Regions from separate parts of the Homo sapiens genome. Here region 2 is linked to region 1. Evidence: fine-mapped expression QTL. A gene starts in region 1. The other region holds a variant in brackets. All regions are shown on one strand. Distances are from middle to middle. Region 1 holds the start of RRM1 (ribonucleotide reductase catalytic subunit M1). Region 2 holds the start of OR51S1 (olfactory receptor family 51 subfamily S member 1).

The links. PIP is the estimated chance that this variant, and not a neighbour inherited with it, causes the effect.
Region 2: its variant is fine-mapped to the expression of RRM1 in pancreas (GTEx, PIP above 0.99).

What each region holds. Positions count from the first base shown.
Region 1 is chr11:4,090,745-4,099,294 of GRCh38, reverse strand. RRM1 (ribonucleotide reductase catalytic subunit M1) reads right to left here and starts at 4,496. Exons shown (of 19, transcript NM_001033.5): 1 at 4,264-4,496. The coding sequence starts at 4,282. It overlaps STIM1 (stromal interaction molecule 1), which reads right to left. Exons shown (of 13, transcript NM_001382567.1): 13 at 6,087-8,013. The coding sequence ends at 7,497. RefSeq lists enhancers at 4,267-4,736, 4,797-4,866 and a silencer at 7,542-7,836.
Region 2 is chr11:4,843,398-4,851,947 of GRCh38, reverse strand. The region is part of intron 2 of MMP26 (matrix metallopeptidase 26); the gene reads right to left. It overlaps OR51S1 (olfactory receptor family 51 subfamily S member 1), which reads left to right and starts at 2,740. Exons shown (of 1, transcript NM_001004758.1): 1 at 2,740-3,711. The coding sequence starts at 2,740. The coding sequence ends at 3,711. The variant C/A (reference allele first, on the strand shown) is at 3,520.

The DNA of each region.
Region 1 (8,550 bases):
TAGCTGGGTATGCTGTAATCCCAGCTACTCGGGAGGCTGAGGCAGAATTGCCTGAACCTGGGAAGCAGAGGTTGCAGTAAGCCAAGATCACACCACTGCACTCCAGCCTGGGCAACAGAGCAAGACTCCGTCTCAAAAAATAAAAAATAAAATTAAAAAATCCTCTAGCATACTAGTGTGATTTCCTCTTGGCTATAAACTGTCTTTCATTCTTCTCTCTTCAGGAAGACTTCCCTAATCCTGTAAGACCAAGGATGCGTGCCTTTTCCACAGGATACAAACTTTCTAATTCCCTCTGCCGAGAATGTTCAGGCCACAGATCTCACATTACTAGCTCTTAATACTATTTAGGGTTCAGCTCAAATGTTGGCTTCTCAGAGAAGCCTTTCCTGGCTACCCAATCCAAGGTTATTTTCTCATTCATCTTTATCACATGATCCTGTTTTACTATCATCTCATTAATCAGTATCTGAAATTAACTGATTATTATGTTTACTTCTTATTTCTTATATACACTTACCACTCCCACCCACACCAAGAAGTCAACTCAATGAGAAATGTAATTTAGCTTTGTTCACTGCAGAATCTCTAATGCCTACAACGGTTCCTAGCACAAAGAGGTGCTGAATAAATGCTTTATGAATAACTGAATGAATGGCCTCTACTGCCTATACTTTACCTATCAGAGTATTTATCATATTTTATCATATTACTTCTTTATTTGTCTATCTTTCTCAATTGATTGTAGGATCTTTGGAAGCTGGAACCATGTCTGCCTACTCATCACTGCAATCCCGGTGAACAGCACGGTATCCACAGAGTTGTAAAATAATATTAGCAGGCTGTGAATGGAATAGGAAGGAAGGAAGGAAGGAAGGAGGAAGGGACGGAGGGAGGGGGAGAGGGAGGGGAGGGAGGGAGGAGGGCAGGAAAGAAGGGAGGGAGAAAGGAAGGAAGGAAGCAAGGAGGGAGGGAAGGAAGGGAGGGAGGAAGAAAGGGAGGAAGGAAGGGAGGGAGGGAGGCAGGGATAGGGAAAGAATCTGGAATAAAAGAAAGATTAGAGTGCAAATGGATGCTTTCAAAGACATTATTTCGTAAACTTTTGTATCATTTTATGTGTATCCACATATATACACATGTCTGTAAAATGTTTTGTTTTTTACTGTGAGTTACAATCCAAAGTTTTGAAAATACTACACTAAATTCCAAAACAGTTTACAACTCAGTTAGCTACTTTGTCATTTACTGCAATGGTTCTCAATGTTTATTTTTTTAACCATAATCTCCTTGAGGAATGATACTCTCCCATTAGGAAAAATAGCTCAAGATAGCAGATGAAAAAAACTCATCTACTATTCTCTTCTATCTAATAATTTTCATATGGATTGTTCCTAAATCCCTAACAATTTTAAGTTCTTTGAAGATAGAGCTGCCTTCTCCATTACTGCCCTCACAGTGTTTAGCAAGACATTAGCATATTCAGTAGGTACTTCAAAGTCAACTTCCAGTTGCCCTTGTTATTAAAAATAACAAAAACTAGCCAGGCGTGGTGGCACACATCTGTAGTCCCAGCTACTGAGGAGGCTGAGGCAGGAGAATCTCTTGAACCCAGGAGGCAGACACTGCAGTGAGCTGAGATCACACCACTGCACTCCAGCCTGGATGACAGAGCAAGACCCCATCTCAAAGAAAATTAACAAAAACTGTAGGAGTTAGTCTGCTATTCCACTGACATGCCAAAAATAAGGGGGTACAAAAAAAGTCCAGAAAACCAAAAACCCTATGCATATTAAAAAACATTAAAATATAGAAACATAGAAATATAAAAAAAAAAAGAAACAAACAAATCTAAGTACATGTTGTATATTAAGTCTTGCTGAATGCTACAATGGCAGAATCTACAGCATGAACCATCTGGATCAAATTGTGCTCTATGAAGGAATGAGAAAATAAGCTCTGCTTTTTAGAGCTAGTTATAGCTAGCACTTTGTGGTTTTTTTTTTTTTTTTTTTTTTTGAGACAGAGTGTCACTCTGTCGCCTAGACTGGAGTGCAATGGCACGATTTCAGCAACCTCTGCCTCCCAGGCTCAAGCGATTCTCCTGCCTCAGCCTCCTGAGTAGCTGGGATTACAGGTGCAAACCACTACCGTCCGGCTAACTTTTGTGTTTTTAGTAGAGACGGGGTTCCACCATGTTGGCCCAGCTGGTCTCAAACTCCACACCTCAAATGATCCACCCACCTCAGCCTCCCAAAGTGCTGGGATTACAGGCGTGAGCCACCATGCCCTGCCACGCCAGGCCAAGGTAGCACTTTTTAAACGAAAGTATTTAGAAGTAGACTCTAAAAGTTCAAAATTCAACACAGGGTTGAATTTTACCCATTCTGGTCATCTAAGTCCATACATTTTCAATTCATCTTTGTTACTGACTTATCATAGACCATCCTAAACATCTCTCCCATATCTAAAGATTTAAAAAATAGATGCTCAAGCCAGGTGCGGTGGCTCCCAGCACTGTAATCCAAGCACTTTGGGAGGCTGAAGTGGGAAGAATGCTTGAGCCCAGGAGTTCAAGACAAGCCTGGGCAACATAGCGAGACTCCTTCTCTAAAAAAATACAAATAAATAATAATGTAAAAAAATAAAAATACAAAAATAGATGCTCAGCTCTCACTCTTATGAATGGATCAATAAAAGTGCACTATGTTATTTTGCTCTTTGGTCAGCTAAAATGTGAGCTAGGAAAATTCACAGAATGATGTTCTCAAGATACCAAAAACAAGAAAGGCCACTACTGTCCACCTTTCCAACTCTTGTCTGTAGTTAAACCAATCTGGACATTGGCTGTAGTTAAACCAAATCAACTACCTGCTTATTCACAGCATTCATCGTGTCCTACATTTTGATACAACTATTTTCATTCATTCTTTAAGAATCTGTTCATGTCAGGTCCTGTGCTAAACGTGAACAGAAAAGTCTCCATCTTGCTTGTATTCCCAGCACTTTGGGAAGCCAAGGAAGGGAGGATGGTTTGAGGCCAGGAATTCAAGGCCAGACTGGGAAACACAGCAAGACTCCTTTACTACCAGAAATTTTTAAAAATTAGCCACTCATGGTGGTGCATGCCTATAGTCCCAGCTACTTGAGAGGCTGAGGCAAGAGCATCGCTTGAGCCCAGGACTTCAAGGTTACAGTAAGCTATGATTACACCACTGCATTCCATCCTGGGTGACAGAGCAAGACTCTGTCTCAAACAAGTCTCCATCTTTGAAATGTTCACAGCCTAGAGGACAAAATAGAAACAACCAGTCGATTAACCAGTATTTACTAAGTGCCTACAATTTTGAAATCATTGTATTGCTTTAACAAAGGCAAGTAGGTTCAACTCAAAACTTGTTCATACGTATCTCATGCGGTTGTTAAAAGTATGTTGCTCTTGTTTTTCCAACCCGATGAAGCCTGTTCCCAAGGCAGGGACTGTCTCCTCCTACAATCTCACAAAGCCAAGCAAAGGGCTGGGCACAAAGCGGGCACTTGGCAAGTCTAATGAAAAAGAACTGTTGAGAAAGAATACGAGTTCCTGACTCTTCCCAGTCCCCATCTTGTCAGAAGATGTCTCAGCCACCCTTCTCTGATTCAGCATCTCTTCCCATGAAGGGAAAGGAACTCGAGGGTGCTGTCTGTCTGGGATCTGTTTTTTCCACGCCACACTCCTATCCTCACCCCACAAAAGAGATCAGTAAACTGACAAGTGCCTACGGAGGGTAGAGAGGCCCCCTCCTTCTTTCCTAGCTGCCCCCCGACCCTGTGCCTAAGACAGCTCACCAACCCCACGGTTTTCAAATCAAACCGTATTGTCACCTATGGGTGACTTTGGGTCAGTCGGCGACACCTCGCTCTGAGCGTCAGTTTCCTCATCTGTAATAAGCTAATCATCTCTCAGAGGCTTGCAGGGAGGAATAAAATAGTGCCTGGCAAGTGCTCGGCGTACGCAGTCACTACTCGATACGGGGTAAGTGTTATCCTTTTGAAAGGCGGCAGGATGACAAAGCCGAGGGGGCGCAGCCTGAAGGCCCGAAGGAGGTTCGGGGCAGGCTGACTGAAGACAGAAGGCCGAGCGGGCTGACAGGGCGGAAGGCCGCGGCGGGAAATGCGGGAAAGGCGGGAAGCAGCGAAGGCGGGCGGGCGGTCTGGGCATCAGCTCCGGCGGCGGCAGCCCGCATCCCCTCACCTTCCTTCTCGCCCACCTCGTCCCCCCCTCACCTCGCTTGATCACATGCATCGCAGCTAGTGGCTGAGGCTCTGAAGGATCCAAGACTGGACTGCGGCTCTAAAGCGCCGGCGGGATCGAGAAGGTGACAGAGTGGGAAGGGTTAGGTTCCAGGCGCTGCTCAGGGGAAAGAACTGGAGTTGGAGCCAGACAGCACTTTCTTCAGAGCAGAGGCGCAACAATCCAAATCCCCTTCCCGCGCCCGCCACCCGTGACGCACAAAGGGGCGCGACGGGGTTCGAATGACGTTACTCGACGCTGCGGCCCACGCCCGGGGTAGGCTTCACAGACTGACAGGCGACGTGTAGCCGCCATGTTGAGTCTGGGCAAGACCCAGAAGACTACGCCTCTCCCATGGGCCCCATTGGATATGGACATGCCCGGCGGAAATGCTGCTCTCCTGCTACCATGTTTTGTGTGGGCAAGCCGAGTTCGGGACCCTCGGGGCCCTGGCGTAGCACCTAGAGCCCGCTGGGTCAGGCGCCGCCCTCTCACCTGCGCGTCTCCGCCGGAGGAAAGGCGGTTAATTTATTTTTGAAATAACAAAACCTAACCGGCGGGAACGTTTTTCTTGCTCTGACATTTATTATAATAATACTAACACTGCCGTCCGCTGTGGGCTCCAGCCCAGGCTCCACAGCCGTGGGCAGCTTGGAGCCCCAGGGCTTTTAGATCGGCCAGAGGACTGACACTCTGGAACTGGAAGAAAACCGCGCAAGGCCGATGGCGTTTGGATTTTATCCTGACGCAAATCAGAGCCCTGAGAGAATTTTAAGCAGGGCAGGGTCAGTACCCATTTGCTTTTAGGGTTCTTCAGTGGATGGTGGCAGAGACAGGGTATTTGCCTTGTGGAGGTAGGATGGACTTGGTGACTTAGAGTGGAGAATAAGAATAGATGAGAACCGTAATATGTAAGGCTGGTGTAGAAGCTTCTGATTTGGGCTACCCAAAGCGATCTTTATGAAATTTCATCTGTGGCATCTTTTCCCTAAAGCCTTTTCGTTGGTTTCTCACTGCCCTCCAGAAGCTGCCCAGGCTCCCTGTGAAGTAATTTCAAAAATCATGGAAAGTCGTAAGTGAGCCTGTAATTGCAGCATTTTGGGAGGCTAAGGCGGGAGCATCATGTGAGGCCAGGTGTTGAGATAAGCCTGGGCAACATAGTGAGACCCCATTTCTACAAAAAATAGAAAAAGTAGGCCAGCGCGGTGCTTCACTCCTGTAATCCCAGCACTATGGGAGGCCAAGGCGGGCAGATCACGAGGTCAGGAGTTCGAGACCAGCCTAACCAACGTGGTGAAACCCCCCCGCTGCTAAAAATACAAAAAGTAGCCAGGCATGGTAGCACGCGCCTGTAATCCCAGCTACTCAGGAGGCTGAGGCAGAAGAATCGCTTGAACGCTGGAGGCAGAGGTTGCAGTGAGCCAAGATCGCGCCATTGCACCCTAGCCTAGGCAAGAGAGTGAGACGCCGTCTCAAAAAAAACAAAAAAAAAGAAAGAAAAATTAAATAGATATGTTTTTTAAAAGTCGTAAGTGAAGTTATAGGATAGATAGGGTCAAGTTTACCCAGACATAGGGTTTCCCAATTTAGCAAATAAAAATGTGTCCCAGATACTGCATGAGAGAAAATTATACTTTAAAAACTGTTTATCTGAAATTCACATTTAACTGGTCATCCTGCATTTATCTGGTAACCCTGCCCACAGAGCTTCTGGGCATGTGCATTCAAGTTTCATTTTCCCTGGGCAAAGGAAAGATTGTCTCTTTATCCCATCATGCCACAGCACAGAGAACACAATGAGAGTCAAAGCCAGCAGTGGTTAAAATCTCCTACATGCTTTATTGGACTTCAAAGAATTTTATGAAATAACACAGAAAACCCCATTTGAGGGTGTCCAGGGAGTACAAGGCAGTCTGCAGCCTAGCACCCTCCTAAGACCAGCCCCAGGTATACCCACCCCAGGCCCAAAATAGGATCCCAGGATAAAGGTATGGCAGGGAGTGGGGCAGAGGAAAAATACCTTTACAGCCATAGCAAAAACAGGTAAGGGAGAGAGTTGTCTAGAGGGTGGGAAGGGTGGGGGAAAGTGGTCACACAGCCGCCTTCACCTATACCATCTTCCTTAGCCACCCCTTCCCCAAACTGGTTGTGTCCTTTTTGAGCCTCTGGCCAAGGCTACAAAGTAACATGAAAATGGGATCTAACAAGGGGAATATGCAGCGTAGGCACTTGGGAAATTCAGATTACTTTTTTTCCTTTTAACCTGTTTGTCTTTTGGTTCAAAAAATGACAGCATCCTTGCCCAACAACTCCAGGGCTCCATAAGAGCCCTGTATCATGGCTGTGGCTCTCCTGGCCAGGGGAGCCACTTGTCCTGAGCCCTAGGAGTATTGATGCTTGGGGAGCTTTGGGGCAGCACCTCTTAGAGACAAATCCTCCTGCAGTGTGGGGGAGCAGGGGTAAGAGGGAGGCAGGTGTGGGTGGGAGTAGAGAGAAAAAGTGACTGCCTTATAACCTACAGTTCTGGCATCCACTCATGCTCCAATGAACAGATGCCTCTCCCAACCCATTCCCAAGCCTGGCCTCTCTTTAAAAGTCTCTGGTGGGTTGTTCTCTGAGAATTGGTTTCACTCCCCCATGGATCCCTGGAGGCCTGAGTGAGATTAGGATGAGGCTCCTTCTGACCCACATCAATACCAAAGAACAAACTTCAAAGATTAGGCCCTAGCCCCAGTCTGGAGCAAACAGAACCACTGTGAGTGGGGTGGAACAGATCTGAGGCACACATGTCAGAAGCTACTCGTCCTATCTTCCCTGCAACTGCTAGGGGAAGTTGGGGAGTGGTGGGAGGGAGGAGCCCGAAAGCAAGAGACAGAAACAAGAAACCAAACCTCAAAACTGGGACAGCAGAGACAGAAGCTGAACCCCAGAGGTGGAGCTGGGAGCTGAGGGAACAGCAACTAAGACATGCACTGAAGTGGAGAGGGAGTGACAGCAGCAGCCCATGGTTGGGACGGAGGCAGGGCAGGCAGGCCATGGTGGTCAGTTAATAAATAATAATGAAGGACCCAAGGATGAGGGGGCAGGTATGTACAGTGCCCAGACCCCTGGACCAGCCCTTCCCATGCCCCACTCTTGGGGCCAGTTATCTTGAAGGAAGGGAGGGAAGGAGAGACAGAACACCCAGGGAAGGACAAGCTGTCCCTTTACTGCCACCCCATCCTGCCTACTTCTTAAGAGGCTTCTTAAAGATTTTGAGGGGAAACTTCTTCCGGCCTGGGCTGGAGTCTGTTTCCTCGCCAATAGAGCCATTATCCTCCTCAGCCACAGCCTTCTTGCCAGCCAGGTGGGGAATGCGTGTGTTTCGGCTGGCTTGCAGGGCTCGGCTGTCCCCAACTGGAGATGGTGTGTCTGGGTCTGGGGAGCTGGGGCTGTGAGAACGGGAAGAATCCAAATGTGGAGAGCCACCAGGTGGGGCTGAGGGGCTCAGCTCCATCAGGCTGTGGGCCTTGTCCAGCCCATGGTTCAGCGCCAGTAATGCCTTCTTGGCCAGGGCAGGGCTGTCAGGCAGTTTCTCCACCAGAGACCCTGGGTGGACCCCCTCGATCAGCCGGTGGCTGCCATTGGAAGTCATGGCATTGAGAGCCTCGTCTGCAGCACGGCTCATCTGAGGAGGTTTGGGGGCCACACGCTGGCGGTCACTCATGTGGAGGGAGGACTCCGAATCGGAATGGGTCAAATCCCTGCAAGACATGGGGCAGAGAGGAAGAAAGGGACATATATTGGATGAGGTGATAGGGGAAAGGCGAAGAGGAGAGAGGGACAACACGAGAAGACAAGGACAGGGTAGGAAAATGGGGATAGAGCGGCAGGAGAGAGAAATAGGATGAACAGGCAGGTGGGAAGGAGAGAGGAAAGAGGAATAGACAGAAGTTGAGCAGCCATAAGTATAGGATAAGAGAGGAGGCAGGAGGAGGGAATGAGGATAGATTGGAAAAGAGACAGGAAAAGGAGAGTAGAATTGTAGAGGAAGAAAAGCAAAAGGATAAGCAGGTAGAAAGAAGGGCCAAGAGAGAAAGACAAGAAAGGGAAAAGTGATAGGGAGGGAAGAAACAGATAAGAAACAAAAACAAATGTCATCATACCATCATCTGTCTGGCAAATGGTTTTCCAATACCTGGGCCCCACCAGTGGTGAATGCTCTGGCTCTGAACTGGTGCAGCCATAGGCTTAAATTCCACAGGCGGCATCCTCAATAAAATCTCTGCCTTCTCATAGCT
Region 2 (8,550 bases), 750 kb before region 1:
TGGTTGAAATTTCACCTGTCATTTTGCTATTTGTTTTCTGTTAGTCTTGTGTCTTTTTTTGTTCCACTGCTTTTTCATTGCATTACATTTGTTTAAATGTTTTTGGTGAATGATTTCAATTCATCTTTTTATTTTTTTACCATTTTATTAGTGATTGTTCTATAAATTACAATATGCACATTACTATATAATTTACTTCAGAATAATATTAACTTAATTCCAGTAAAATTCAAAAGTTTTGTTTTAATAAATGTTTAATTCCTCCCCCTTGTTGTGCTATTATTATAATATATATACATACATATACAGACACACACATATATAATATATATAATTTACTCGACAATAGAGTATTATAATTATTTTTTCATCCAATTCAAGCCTGTTAAGGAAATTTAGGGAAAATTAACTAAAACGTGTATAGAGTCCTTCACATTTACCCATATATTGAGTATGTCCAGTACTCTTCATTTCTTCCTATAGATTCCAGTTACCATCTGGTTTTATTTTTCAGCCAGAACTCTGTGTTAAATCCTCACCTAGTCTGCTGGTGGACACATTACCCCAAAGAGGACCAGAACCTCAGGGTAGTGGAGTTGCTGGCCCTCCCTATTTCCTTGCCACCAAAATTGCCGTGCTAACTGACAGAGCTCCAAATCACGGAAGCTGCCTCACGAGTACAGGAACAAAGCTGTGGGGTTTCCTTATCTGACCACTGTTGATAGAGCTGGAGGCAGTGGAATGAAGCAGCCTTGCCAAAATGCTAGGCAACTGGCTGTTATTTTCCAAAGTTCAGTCGTTTCAATAAACAAGCTTATATCTCTAATGGATTTCCAGGGTGTCAAAATGGATCTTATTGACAGCTTGCCAGCTTTATACATGCTTTGTAGGGGAGAGGATGTGTTAGCCTCCTCACTCCATCACACTGGAAATGAATGTCTGTTTCTATTTATTGCTTTTTAAAAGTCTGTGGGATTAAGGGTTTTGTTGCATTTATCTTCCTTTTTTAGCTTGAAAGTTATATTTTATTAAAAAATTTAACATAATATTTTATAACATATGTATTTGGAATTTTTGTAATAAATGTTTAGGGTTAGCCTCCTCACTCCATCACACTGGAAATGAATGTCTGTTTCTATTTATTGCTTTTTAAAAGTCTGTGGGATTAAGGTTTTTGTTGCATTTATCTTCCTTTTTTAGCTTGAAAGTTATATTTTATTTAAAATTTTAACATAATATTTTATAACATATGTATTTGGAATTTTTGTAATAAATGTTTAGGGTTAACTTGTATCTATATCATTATCCTGAAAACAAAACCTAGCAAGTTTTTTTATTTTACTTTTCTTTAGATCCCAATTTTCGTGGTCTTTTTGTCCAGAATTTCAGTTCCAATCTTTCTGGGCATTTGGGCAGGGAAGAAAATATGACTATGGTGTGTGTCCAGTCCTTCTTGTTAAAATTATAAATAATATTTGGATATTACATGTGAGGAGAAGCTAATTCTCAGGTTTTTATTTTGGGAAATTGATTAATGGTGGCACCAACAACTGACTTAGGGAACAAACGAGTGTCTTATTGGTTTTGCTATTGACATAAATTCCTCTTCACTGTTTCCTAACTGATGACTCTGAAAGAGGCATTAAGATGTGTCTGTTAAGATCTGCTTTGGATTATTTGAATTTAAATTGCCTGGAACATCCAAGGTAAGATGAACCTAGAAGGATCTGGGAATATATATTAGTAATTCATCTGTTTGTAGACTCGAGTTGATGTCATGAGAGTAGATAAGACCACTTAGGAAAATAAAGAGGGCCAAGGAAAAATATCTCAAAAATATAAACATACACTTAGATAGAAGAAATAAGTTATAATGTTCAGTAGCCAAGTAGGGTGACTATAGTTAACAACAATGTATTGTATATTTCAAAATAGCTAGTAGACAGAACTTGAAATGTTCCAACATATAAAAATTATAATTACTCAAGGCGATGGATGTCCTAAATACCCTGACTTTATCATTTCACATTCTATGCATGTAACAAAATACCACATGCACCCCTTTAAATATGTGCAATTATTACATTTCAATAAAATAAAAATTTTAAATACCCATGTATAAATCATAGGGACACAGCAAAGTTAAGTAAAAGGCTAAATTCTGAAAGGGAGAATTTTTAAAAAAGTAAAAAATAGATCCATAGTAGCCAAAGCTCATTAAGAAATAAATCAAGCTTAGAAAAAATGAGTGCCCCTTAATTTAGAAATAAAGGAGTAATTGGGGACTTAATAAGAACAGTTAAAGTGCACCAAAATGTAAGTATCTTAAGGCAGTCTAGAAGTCAGACTGTCTGGGGTTGGGAAGAGAAAAAAATATGGATAAATGGACTGTTTCCTAAAGTGTTTGTCATAAAGGGAGGGAAAAAATAGGATAACACTACAGGGAGAGGCAAGCTAAAAAAACATGTGAAAACAATCTAGGAAAAGAAACAGAACCACAGAGCTATGAGGACAGCTATAGAAAAACCTCAAAGGCAAGGAATGAATGCTGCATATACTATTAGGATGGGTGCGTGCACAGGGAGGAAATGTGTATATGTGTACGTGTATGTGAGTGCATGAGTCAGGGAAGGGAAGATGCAGGCTATTTTGGAACGTTTCATGCAAATTTGGCACGCGATTAAGTAAACCTTTCTAATCATTTTTCAGGTTCCAGAGTTCAACGTGGAATCCTGAACTATGTCAACATTACCAACTCAGATAGCCCCCAATAGCAGCACTTCAATGGCCCCCACCTTCTTGCTGGTGGGCATGCCAGGCCTATCAGGTGCACCCTCCTGGTGGACATTGCCCCTCATTGCTGTCTACCTTCTCTCTGCACTGGGAAATGGCACCATCCTCTGGATCATTGCCCTGCAGCCCGCCCTGCACCGCCCAATGCACTTCTTCCTCTTCTTGCTTAGTGTGTCTGATATTGGATTGGTCACTGCCCTGATGCCCACACTGCTGGGCATCGCCCTTGCTGGTGCTCACACTGTCCCTGCCTCAGCCTGCCTTCTACAGATGGTTTTTATCCATGTCTTTTCTGTCATGGAGTCCTCTGTCTTGCTCGCCATGTCCATTGATCGGGCACTGGCCATCTGCCGACCTCTCCACTACCCAGCGCTCCTCACCAATGGTGTAATTAGCAAAATCAGCCTGGCCATTTCTTTTCGATGCCTGGGTCTCCATCTGCCCCTGCCATTCCTGCTGGCCTACATGCCCTACTGCCTCCCACAGGTCCTAACCCATTCTTATTGCTTGCATCCAGATGTGGCTCGTTTGGCCTGCCCAGAAGCTTGGGGTGCAGCCTACAGCCTATTTGTGGTTCTTTCAGCCATGGGTTTGGACCCCCTGCTTATTTTCTTCTCCTATGGCCTGATTGGCAAGGTGTTGCAAGGTGTGGAGTCCAGAGAGGATCGCTGGAAGGCTGGTCAAACCTGTGCTGCCCACCTCTCTGCAGTGCTCCTCTTCTATATC[C/A]CTATGATCCTCCTGGCACTGATTAACCATCCTGAGCTGCCAATCACTCAGCATACCCATACTCTTCTATCCTATGTCCATTTCCTTCTTCCTCCATTGATAAACCCTATTCTCTATAGTGTCAAGATGAAGGAGATTAGAAAGAGAATACTCAACAGGTTGCAGCCCAGGAAGGTGGGTGGTGCTCAGTGAGTAGGATGTCCCTCCGTGTTTGGTGGTACAGGGCTCCTGATACTAAAGTTTCTGTGAGAACTCAGCTCACCAAGCATGAAATGATCATTCACGTACACATAAGTGCATATATGTGCATGTAGCTTCCTGTCCCTGGAAGTATGCCTGTGTATATTGATGCAAACTTACAAGCCCCAAAGAATGAACATGATCCACCCACTGGTACATTACATATCAATGACATAGGAAGGGCCAGAGTCCAGATCTTGTCACAACTATCCAAGTGTGTGCCTGTTGTTATCTTATTGTTGTTAGTCCTGTCACTATATCTATACCTTAATACTGGATAAAGCTAGAAGAGTTAATCATCTACATAGCAAAGGAAAAATAAGACAGAAGCATTCTTCTCAACTAGATAGAAGATCTTCCATTTGTATTGTACCTCCTTAAGAAGTAAGAATTCTGACCAATCCTTAGGAATTAGATACATGAGGAAAATGCAAGTAAGTCTCTCATTTAGATTCTTCACACCAAGAGATAGGTTATTTAACTCTGATCAGGCCAGGAAAAAAAGAGGGAATATAATTTTTTTAATTCTTCATTTAGTTTTCAAAATGTTAGTATATTTTTGAATACATATGTATATTGAATGTCCTCAACACAAAGAAATGAGAAATGTTTGAGATTATAAATATGCTAATCACCCTGATCTGATCACTATACATGGTATGCACCAAAACATCACTATGACTATGCATAATTATTGTCAGTTTAAAATAAAATTTAATTTAATTTTTTAAATTTTTGCATATTTCAGAAAAAATAGAACAAATAAGAATAATCTTAAATTACATCCCCCAAACTTAACTATAATTATCTGTTTAGTGAACACTTATAATGTTTTATGTAAATGGAATCTTACAAGTGGCATTTGGAATTATCGGTCTCAATTCTTTACTTCCTAGTAGCAGCAGTATACATTCACATCCACATCAGGAGGGACAAAGTGGACGGATTGTATTTACATTCACTCTCACTTTAGACACATAATTTTCTCTGGCCATTGTGGTCCTCATGACTTGTTTTGGTCAATAGGATGTTAGTGGATGTGATAAAAGCAAGAGCTTCAGTGTGATTTTGCTGCAGGGTTTGATTTCTTGTACTGGGGTAGTGCTAACCTAGTAGGTAATTCCCCTTGAATCTGGTTTCCAGAAGGAGGTACATGGTGCAAACCTGAGCCAAATTCAGAGCCTGGAGCCAGTCCCTGGTTCCCAGAGAACTGAAGCAAAGCCAGCAAGTCAAAGCAGCCTAGATGAAGAGGGTCTCTGACAACCTACTGACCAGTGAGAATTATAACAAATGCTGTAGTTGTAAGCATCTGATATTTTGTAGTTGGTATACAGCAAAAGTTAACTAACAGAGTAATTACAGTCTTATTCTGTGAACATGGTTAATCTATTTTTTTGATGCCAATACAATTAATCACATGTGTGTTATGAGGAGCACTATTGTTGTAGCACAATAATTGACTAACTTTAATAAATATATATTTTTTATTTTTGTGGGTACACAGTAGGTTTATATATTTATGGGGTACATGAGATGTTTTGATACAGGCATGCAATGTGAAATAATCACATCATGAAGAATGGGGTATCTATCCCCTCAAGCAGTTATCCTCTGTGTTATAAACAATCCAATTACATTCCTTTAGATATCTTAAAACGTGTGATTAAGTTATTATTGACTAGAGTCACTCTATTGCACTATCAAATAGTAGGTCTTATTCATTCTTTCTATTATTTTTTATACCCATTAACCATGCTCACCTCTCCCCCAGGTTCCCACTACCCTTCCCAGCCTCTGGTAAACATCCTATTCTCTTTGTCCATGAGTACAATTGTTTTCATTTTTAGATCCCACAAATAAGTGAGAACATGCAATGTTTGTTTTTCTGTGCCTGGCATATGTCACTTAATATAATGACCTTTAATTTCATCCATACTGTTGCAAATGATAGGATCTCATTCATTTTATGGCTGAATAGTACTCCATTGTGTATATATAGCACATTTTCTTTATCTATTTGTCTGTTGATGAATGCTTAGGTTGCTTCCAAATCATAGCTATTGTGAACCATGCTGCAGCAAACATGGGAGTGCAGATACGTCTTTAATATACTGATTTCCTTTCTTTTGGGTATATAACAGCAGTGGGATAGCTGGATCATAGGGAAGCTCTAATTTTAGTTTATTGAGGAACCTCTAAACCATTCTCCAAAGTAGTTGTACTTACTTACATTCCCACCTTGGCAGCATTGTCTGTCTTTTGGATATCAGCCATTTTAACTGGAGTGAGATGAGATCTCATGATAGCTTTGATTTGAGTTTCTCTGATGATCAAGGATGTGGAGAACTTTTACAGATGCCTGTTTGTCATTGTTTTTCTTCATTTGAGAAATGTTTATGTACCTCTTTTGCCCATTATTGATTAGATTATTGGTTTTTTTCCATGTGGAGTTGTAGAGCTCCTTATATATTCTAGTTATTAATCCTTTGTCAGATGGGTAGTTTGCAAATATTTCCTTCCATTCTGTGGGTTGTCTCTTCACTTTGTGGATTGTTTTATTTGCTATGCAGAAGCTTTTTAACTTAATGTGATCCTATTTGTCCATTTTTGCTTAGGTTGCCTGTGCTTGTGGGATATTGCTCAAGAAATTTTTACCCAGATCAATGTCCTGGAGAATTTCCCCAATGTTTTTTTGTAGTAGTTTCCCCAAAGTTTTCTGTAGTAGTTTTCACTTAAATAATTTGGCTATTCTGGTTATTTTATGGTTCCATACAAATTAAGATTGTTTTTTCTATTTCTGTGAAGAATGTCATTGATATTTTCATTGGAATTGCATTAAATCTATAGAGTGCTTTGGACGGTATGGACATTTTAACAATATTTATTCTTTCAGTCCATGAACTTAGAATACTTTTCAATTTCTTGGTACCCTCTTCAACTTCTTTCATCCGTGTTTTATAGTTTTCATTGTAGATATCTTTTATTTATTTGGTTCAATTAATTTTTAGGTATTTAATTTTACATGTGGCTATTGTAAATGAGATTACTTTTTAATTTCTTTTTCTTTTTAATTTTTGATCACTGTTGGCTTATAGAAATGCTACTGATTTTTGTATGCTAATTTTGTATCCTGCAAATTTACTGAATTTGTTCCTCAGTTCTAATAATTGTTTTGGTAAAGTCTCTAGGTTTTTCCAAATATAAGATCGTATCTTCTGAAAATAAGAATAATCTGAATTTTTCCATTCCAATTTGGATGACTTTATTTCCTTTTCTTAATACTCTAGCTAGGACTTCCAATACTGTGTTGAATAATAGTGGTGACAGTGAACATCCTTCTAGTGTTTTAGATCTTAGAGTAAAGGCTTTCAGTTTTTCCTCAGTGTGATACTAGTTGTGGGTCTGTCATATCTGGCTTTTACTATTTTGAGATATGTTCCTTCTATACCCATTTTAAGGGATTTTATTATGAAGGGGTGTTGAATTTTGTCACATGCTTTTTCAGCATTAATTGAAATGATCATATGGTTTTTATCCTTCATTCTGTTGATAGAATGTATCCCATTGATTGATTTTCATATGTTGAACCATTCTTGTGTCCCAGGGATACAGCCCACTTGCTCATGATGAATTATCTTTCTAATGTTTTTTTGAATTCAGCTTGCTAGTATTTTGTTGAGGATTTTTGCATCAACATTTATCAGAGATACTGGCCTGTAGTTTTCTTTTTTTGATGAGTCTTTGGTTTTAGTATCATGGTAATACTGACCTCATAGAATGAGTGTGGAAGTATTCCTTCCTCTTCCATATTTTGGAATAGTTTGAGTAGGATTGGTATTAATTATTTAATTGGTTGGTGGAATTCAGCAGTGAATCCATCGTATCCCAGGCTTTTCTTTATGGGAAGGCTTTTCATTGTGGCTTTGATCTTGTTACTTGTTATTTGTCTGTTTATATTTTGGATTTCTTCGTGGTTCAATCTTGGTAGGGTGTATGCATCTAGGAACTTCTCCATTACTTCTAGATTTTCTAATTTATTGGCATATACTTGCTCGTGATAGCCATTATCCTTTAAATTTCTTCAGTATCAGTTGTAATGTTTCCTTTTTCATTTCAAATTTTATTTATTTGGATCATCTCTTATTCTTTCTTAGTCTGGCTAAAAGTTGGTCAATTTTGGGGAAATTTAACTTTTCAAAAAACCTTTTTGTTTTATTGATCATTTGTGTTGTTTTCTTTGTTTCAATTTTATTTATTTCTGCTCTGATCTTTATTATTTATTTTCTTCTTATAACGGTGTACACCCATATGCATGAACAAAGAGCTTATATCTGAAACTGAAATTTATATTTAAAAGGGAAGCAGAACATATGAGTTTGGGAAATTTGCAGCCTGACCATGTGGTAGGCAATAAAAACCTATTTTTCTGGGGATAAATTAGAGCCAGCTGCATAAATTTGAATAAATAAAGAGGAGCCAAACGTTAATAGCCACCACAATGGGGAAAATGTCTCCCAGGTATTTCAGACCTTCACTGCAGCCCCTCCCACTACAGGCCTGGAGGCCAAGGAGGGAGAAGTGGTTTTGTGAGCCAGGCCCAGGGCCCCATTGATCTATGCATCCTTGAGACATGGCACCCTGCGTTCCAGCCACTCCAGCTCCAGCCATTGCTAAAAGGAGCCAAGGTACAGCTCGGACTATTCCTTCAGAGGGTGCAGGTCCCAAGCCATAGCAGCTTCCATGTGGTATTGGGCCTGTGGGTGTACAGAAGGCAAGAGTTTAGGTTTGGGA